Homo sapiens: one gene and its partner. The protein of the gene in region 2 purifies or fractionates together with the protein of the main gene of each other region. This does not show direct contact. Each region holds a gene or a part of one and is shown on either strand. Other genes may lie near its edges. The genes, in order: SPPL2B and C5orf15.

What was found.
Region 1: the proteins of C5orf15 (region 2) and SPPL2B purify together in Homo sapiens (co-immunoprecipitation; one large-scale study listed by IntAct). This does not show direct contact.

Annotation. Positions count from the first base shown.
Region 1 is NC_000019.10:2,338,684-2,342,493, forward strand, and holds part of SPPL2B (signal peptide peptidase-like 2B isoform 2 precursor), read left to right. Parts: exon of another isoform or gene 1-68; coding exon 69-158; intron 159-381; coding exon of another isoform or gene 382-385; coding exon 386-525; exon of another isoform or gene 526-607; intron 608-1,140; coding exon 1,141-1,283; intron 1,284-1,392; coding exon 1,393-1,489; intron 1,490-2,214; coding exon 2,215-2,331; intron 2,332-3,810. UniProt on the Homo sapiens protein: Intramembrane-cleaving aspartic protease (I-CLiP) that cleaves type II membrane signal peptides in the hydrophobic plane of the membrane. Functions in ITM2B and TNF processing.
Region 2 is NC_000005.10:133,954,979-133,958,904, forward strand, and holds the end of C5orf15 (keratinocyte-associated transmembrane protein 2 precursor), read right to left. Parts: intron 2,013-3,926; coding exon 1,881-2,012; 3' UTR 532-1,880; downstream 1-531.

The DNA of each region.
Region 1 (3,810 bases), on a different chromosome or scaffold from region 2:
GGGCACAGAGCTGGGGGCCCACCCACTGCTGCGGGTGATGCCTGCCGCTCCCTCCTCTGGGCCCCCAGGTCCCCCCGGGGGGTAATAAGACGCAGTATGATGAGATTGGCATTCCCGTGGCCCTGCTCAGCTACAAAGACATGCTGGACATCTTCACGGTAGGTCTGCGCCGGCTCAGACCCACGCTCCCGAGGAGATGGGGCAGGGGGCTTCGGGCTGGCTGCCGGGGGGGTTTGTGCCTCAGTTGGTGGGATCAGGGTGGTGGGTGAGGCGTGGCCCCTGCAGGCCAGGGTCTCCAGCCCCAGCCCCACAGCCCACAGCTGCACGTCGACCCATGGCTGGCGGGTGGCTCTGACGCCTGCCTCCGGTGTGTTCCTTGAGGCAGCGTTTCGGCCGCACGGTGAGGGCGGCGCTGTATGCGCCTAAGGAGCCGGTGCTGGACTACAACATGGTCATCATCTTCATCATGGCTGTGGGCACCGTCGCCATCGGCGGCTACTGGGCCGGGAGTCGGGACGTGAAGAAGTGAGTTTCGCATCGTGCGTGTGCTGTGACGGGGTCGGGCGGCTCTGACACGGGCCGGGACGGCCAGTCTTCCAGAACAGCAGTGAGTGCTTTGGCCTCGGCAGGCACGGCTCGCCCCGTGGAGCCCTTCGTTTCTTCCTCAGGAGGTCCTGGGACAGAATCAGTCTCTTTTCCTGCCAGGGTGGGCTCCGGGCACCTGGTGGGTGTGTAGGGCTGGGCAGGTGTGGATGTGGCAGGTACGGGCGTGGCAGGTGCAGGGCTGGGCAGGTGGCTGGGGCCAGCTACCCTCTTCCTGCTGAGCCGCCTGGGTCTGGGGAGGCCCCATGTCCAGGGCTCTTTATGCAGATCCAAGCTGCGGTTGCTGCCCACACGCCAGCCTCTGGCCCGGCCTAGTGGCCACCCCAGCTCAACCCAGGGACGCGGGCCCTGCCACCCTCTGCTGTGTGGTCTCCTCTGCCCTGGGGACGTTCGGGGCGGTTCCTTGCACTTCAGTCCCCCCCGGGTCCCCTCCTGCTCCCGGGTTTTCTGCCCCGTTCCCCCGGGTGGCTGTGGGCTCCCGAGCCCCGTGTCGGCCAGCCGGCCCCAGGGCCCCACGACCCCATGGTGTCTCCCAAGAAGGTACATGAAGCACAAGCGCGACGATGGGCCCGAGAAGCAGGAGGACGAGGCGGTGGACGTGACGCCGGTGATGACCTGCGTGTTTGTGGTGATGTGCTGCTCCATGCTGGTGCTGCTCTACTATTTCTACGATCTCCTCGGTGCGCGGCCCCGGGCGGGTGGGCCGCGGCGTGGAGATGCAGCCCGCCCCGTGCGGAGGGAGGGTGGCGTGCGGGCCTGGCCCCCGGCCTCACGGCCCTGCCCCTGCAGTGTACGTGGTCATCGGGATCTTCTGCCTGGCCTCCGCCACCGGCCTCTACAGCTGCCTGGCGCCCTGTGTGCGGCGGCTGCCCTTCGGCAAGTGCAGGTGAGTCTGCCCTGCTGGCCCCGACGTGCCTGACTCTGTGCGGTGATGGCCACGGCCCCTTTGCCGCCCCATAGCCCCCCATGGTGCAATATTGCTCAGAGTCTACAGCAGGCGCTCCCTCAGTGCTGGCCTGGGGCTCCTAGGCCCAGGAGCAGGGCGGAGTCTGGGCGAGCTATCAATGGAGCCCACCAGCAGCCAGGCGCCAGGGGTGGCGGGGGGAGGGTGCCCTTGTCCCCAGGAACCCTGCCCCAGGTCGCAGGCCGAACCCTGGGTTCCCCAGGGTTCTCCGGGGAACCCAGAAGGTTCCCCACAGCCCAGAGCTTGGCCTGGCTCTTAGGGGTAAAGGGAGCTGCTGGGGGGTCTCCAACAAAGTCAGACCTGGGTCTAGGAAGCGGGGCTAGCCCAGGGGGAGACCTTTTTGTGTTGCCGTCCCTGGGTGAGGAGGTGGGAGGTCTGGAGCAGGCAGGGCCTCGGGCGAAGGGGCGCAGCGCAGGCGAGGGGCTCTGTGGGTACAGCCCGTGGCCCCCAGCGCCTGCCCGGGTCGGGCTCTGCCCTGCCCTTGGGGTGCCTACTGTTGTCATCGTGTGGGATGTGGAGTTTAATGAGGACAACAGAGTGGGGGCTGCCACTCTGCAGGGGGTGCCTGGGCCGGTCCCAAGGGTGGTGGGCAGTGGGATGAGGCCGGGAGCTGGTGGGCTTGGCTCTGACTGCCCCGTGCCCCCCAGGATCCCCAACAACAGCCTGCCCTACTTCCACAAGCGCCCGCAGGCCCGTATGCTGCTCCTGGCGCTCTTCTGCGTGGCCGTCAGCGTGGTGTGGGGCGTCTTCCGCAACGAGGACCAGTAAGTGCTGCTTCCCCCGGGCCCCGGCGGGCAGCGGAGTCCTCGGGTGCACCAGGGCTCCTGGGGCCCTGACTCCCTGCCCTCCCTGGAGGCCGCCCCAGCCTGGAGCTGCTTCAGCACCGCGTGATGAAGAGCCCTGGCCCCGGGCTGCTCTGACAGGGCTGCGAGGGCGTTTCACCTGGGGTTTGTCCGGGTGTCATGGGAACCCTGACTGGAATCCGGGAGGAGAGGCCGGAGCCCCTGTGGCCAGGAGCCACGTCCTCCAGCCTGGATGGGACTCCTTTGTGGGGCATCGCTGCCCAGGGCCACAGTCTGTCCCCCGCTGTCCCTTTCCTGGCACCCACGTGCACGCCGCAGGTTCGAGGCCCAGGGTGTGGGCACCAGGGCACCCGGTCCTCTTGGTCATGACTGCTGCGGCTTCTGAGCAGTGGTGGAGGTGGGGCAGGCACTGCTCCCCCCACGCTCACCTCCCACGTGGCCTGGACTTGTGGCTGCCTCCCGCTGGCCGGGCCTCCCCCATGAGGCCGAGTGCCTGGTGCCGTGTTGGGAGGACAGAGCTGGCCCGTCCCCGCCCGGTCCCCACCGCTGTCGCTGATACCATCTGGCACTTCCTCCCAGCCTTCCTGAGGCAGCCAAGTACGCTTGGCTTTGGTGTGTATTGGAGCCACGGCACGTTTAACTGGCAGAAGGAAGATGTGAAAATATTTTGAATCCTTTGTACACAAAGAGAAAATGAATCTTTTCAGTTATTTCCAAGCCAGGAAACTCGCTCCGTCACATGAAGTTAGAGCAGGCCTCAGTCAGCTGGGCGCAGGGGCTCACGCCTGGGATCCCAGCATTTGGTAGGCCAAGGCAGGACGATCACTTTGCCCAGGAGTTCAAGACCAGCCTGGGCAACAAGCGAGACGCCCTATTTAAGAAATAATATAAAATCAGAAAAAATAACTGGCCGCAGTTCTCTGGGTGCTTGAAGTACGTGGCGCCTGGAATTGGCTGTACCAGCGTCTCCCATGGAGGCCTCTGCTGTTAGCAGCCGCCCCGCCCTGGAGATGTTTTTATCCCATTTTCAAATGAAGCCTTTGATGTTTGAGACGCTGAGGAACGCTGGGGAACTCGTCCAGCAAGTGACAGGCAGAGCCTGCATTGGGGGCAGGGGCCAGCGGGGAGGGGACTCTGGGGCTTCGTGGGGCCAGGAGAGAGCCGAAGTTGCGGCTGGCTGCAGGGGCCGTGGCCTTGTGCAGGAGGCAGTTCTGTGCTTTGCCCCAGGGCACCAACCGCATGGCAGCCCCACCCACTGTGGACCCAGAGGTTCTTTGAGGAAACCTGGTGTGGCACAAGTTTTAATTTAATAAACAGTTTGGGCACGGGGGCTCATGCCTGTAATCCCAGCACTTTGGGAGGTGAGGCGGGCAGATCACTTGAGGTCAGGAGTTTGAGACCAGCCTGGCCAACATGACAAAACCCCATCTCTACTAAAAA
Region 2 (3,926 bases):
GCATGAGGTTGTGAGGCTCAACTGTGGCCCCTGCGTGCCTAGTCCCTAGCACTAGTTCCTAGTGCTCAAGTGCCTCTGTGAGACTCCAGGGGCATTTTTAATCAATGTATGATCTGATGCTCCAAAAGTCTGAGGCTACTTAATTGCAGCACTGTGACCTAGGTGGCTGGACCACCAGGAAGTACCCAAGAATCCCCCAATCCACTAAGGGGGATGAGCCTCCACACTCGGGGAGCCTTCCATCCCAGATAGTGACCCCAGGATGCTAGAAAGAGCACACTGATTTAGCCACTTTGCTTTTCTTTGCCATCCTACTTTGCTACAGTTTTCAATAAACTTCAGTACCTCGCAGTAAGTTGGACCTAAAGAAGAATTTAGCAATGTAAGTGGAATTCATAGAGGCAGAGTTGCACTGCTGAGAGGGACACCTGCAAGTGAATCAGGTTAGATTGCTCCCAGACATACACTACTCCCCGTCACCACCTAAATGTCATCACTGAAATGAAACACAGAAACACACTCGTGAAATCATAGATTTATATCTTTGCCATTTATTTTTTAAAATCTTATTCAAAATATTAAATAATAGTTTCAGATATGAAAAAAATTACTGCAATAAAACGGTTCAGGGGTATTTCCATTGTGCTTCCCTTCCCTATTAGGAAAGTACACTGTCCGCCCAAGAGACAGGATGGACGGCCTTCTTCCAGCTCTACATAAAGCGCAAGCCCACTGGCTCACCCGGGTCCTGCTTAACATATATTAGGGCTATGTTTTCTAAAAAGCTGTAGTGACACTTGTAAGTCAACCATGGTTCAAATCACATATTTACATATTGATCAATTCTTTATGATAGAAAGACAGACATAAATGAATCCCATAGTAAATACTTTCCAGTTGCCATAAAAAACAAAAACAAAGAAAACAAGTGTGGGGGAAAAAAGGTAATTGTACACAAATATCCTTTATGTATACAAACAACTTCATTCAGGTATAATTTTAATTTGAAAGACCTAGGTACAGTATTATTTAAGTGATAATGACCCCTAAGATTTATTCAAATTTACTGTAAAATAATAAACGAAGTAAACGAATCTGATATAATTTTAAACTCTGCCCATTGCTTGAAACCTTGGAGGAACCCATGCTACAATCAATTGCTAACTAAAAGCAATTGTACATGTATTTAACATTTTACCAGTTTCTGCTTCTAAATTTAATATAGTAATTCCAACCAAAAAAATAGTATCTCTGTAACATTTTATCTATGTCCACTGCAAGCTGCAGAGTCTCTGTTGCCAAGATTTCTTGACACATTTAATGTTTTACCTAAAATTGTGGTCAGATTGAGCAATATCATTATCCTAAATTATGTTTAAATTATCTAAAAATATCCAAAGCAGTTTTCTTGGAAGAAAAAAAAATATTACTCAAATCCAAAGCATTATCACACATATCCTTGTACATTACAGTTTGGGAACAAAAAAAAATGTGGATAAAAAATAGTATTTGAATGGCGGAGAATGAATGTGAGTCAGCAGTAACAGATATGTCAGAATTTAGTTACAAGTTTGGGATCTTTTAAAAGTAGCATCACTAATACTTCCAGAAGAAGCATAATAAATCTAAAACAATAAAAACTAACAGTGTAAATATAAGGTAATGTTTAACTCACATTTTGGACACCTGATTAAACTCAGCTCTAAAAGTACAGATAAAAAATTATATACTCGTTTGTGACATTTAATTTCCAAAGCACCAAGGCAAAAGAGAGACTCACCTCTCATTTAAGTACCAATTGCCTATGGCAAACATTTGCACAATATCATATAAAAAGTCAAGCAAATAAAATTACATAAGCAAATTCAAATCACAGTGCTTTAAAAAATATAATCATTGGTAATCTTCAAAGAAGGCATTGCCTCATTAACATTCTGATCTAGGCGATGGTATTCCACTGTTTTGGAACAAAGGCCATCACGCCATTTCCTGCTTTGAACCAGAAGAAAAATCTGGAAAACAGAAGTCATTAAATAGGCAAAAGAGAAAACAGAGAATATGGTAAACATTTTTATAACAAGTAAAATATCTCTCTTCTAGGTTTCTAAATATAAAACACAAAATATCAACAACAAAAAAGCTATTTTAGGCCGAGGCAGGCAGATCACTTGAGCCCAGGAGTCCGAGACCAGCCTAAGCAACATGGTGAAACACCATCTCTACAAAAAATACAAAATTAGCCAGGCATGGAGGCGCTTGCCTGTAGTCCCAGCTACTCAGGAGGCTAAGGTGGAGGATCACTCGAGCCCAGGAGGCAGAGATCACAGTAAGCCATGACAGCACCACAACACTTCAGCCTGGGTGACAAAGCAAGACCCTGTCTCAAAAAAAAAAAAAAACAAAAGCTATTTTGCTTTCCATCTTGTAAAGAAGGCTAAACAGTGCTTCTCAAATTTCAATATATATAGGAATGTTTGTTAAAGACTCAGATTCCTAGGCTCTATCTTCAGAGACTGAGTTAGTACTTGAGGTAGAGCCCAGGAACCTACTTGTTTAACAAGTCCCTTTGATGTTCATAATAGAGATGGCCAAACACTAAACAGTGGGATATAATATCAGCAGCACTCAAGGTTCTGTCTACCCATAAACACTTACAAAGCTAGCAATATAGCACTAAATACAAATAACCAGAAGAGTTGGTTGGTTTGCTTTTTTTTGAACTATTATTAGAGTCACTGATTCTCAAAGCAGGAAGGCATTTTGAAATTATCAGGTCCAGTTTCACTATTTGTCAGGTAAGGAAATCAAGGCCCCGAAGGGGAAGGTGGCTTACAGTGTTACAAAGCAAGTTACAATAAAGTCAAGAACTGAGACTTCCTGACCAGTAAGTATTAAAAAGGAACTGTGTGTTTGATCTCCCTTTAAGGATTTTAAAAGGCTTAACTATTCAGCTTTGGGACTGTAGAGTGCCAACATGTACCCTCACACTAAATGTGATGTATCCTGTCCTACAGATGTCTCTTGTGCCTCATGTAATCCAGCAAACTGGTAACAGCACAGAAATGTTCATCACAATATTATTTCTGAACCAAAAATTGTAAACCATGAATCTAGTATGTTTTTAGCCAGGCACAGTGGCTCACGCCTATAATCTCAATTACTTGGGAGGCTGAAGTGGGAGGATTACTTGAGGCCAGGAGTTCACCAGCGTGGACAACATAGCAAGATCCTGTCTCAAAAAAAAATAATGTTTTTAAAGAATATTAAGGATATGGAAAATGCTCATGATTGGTCAGGACATAAAACTCTATGAGATAGCTGGGTGCAGTGGCTCATGCCTGTAATCCCAGCGTTTTGGGAGGCTGAAGTGGGTGGATCACTTGAGGCCAGGAGTTTGAGACCAGCCTGGCCAACATGGCAAAACCCCGTCTCTACTAAAAATACGAAAATTAGCCAGGCGTGGTGGCCTGCGCCTGTAGTCCCAGTTACTCAAGAGGCTGAGCCATGAAAATCGCTTGAACCTGGGAGGTGGAGGTTGCAGTGAGCCGAGATCGCACCACTGCTCTCCAGCCTGGGAGACAAAGTGAAGCTCTGTCTCAAAAAAAAAAAAAAAAAAAAAAAAAAAACTCTGTGAGATAAAATTCCTTAAAAATCATTACATACACCTATATGTATAAATTATATGCACATTTATAGACCAGAAATACACCAAAACGTTAATGCTGAGAAGTAGTTTAAATTTTCTTTTCTAAACTCTTCTGTTTTCTGAATTCCCTAAAATAAATGTGTAACACTTTATAACCAGAAAAAAAATCAAAAGATTAAGTTCAATGTTAATAAATTAAAAGACAAATATTAAATTAACATTTTCTCCACAAGTATTCCTACTGAAGTAATGATGCCAAATTAAGACATAAACTCTTAAA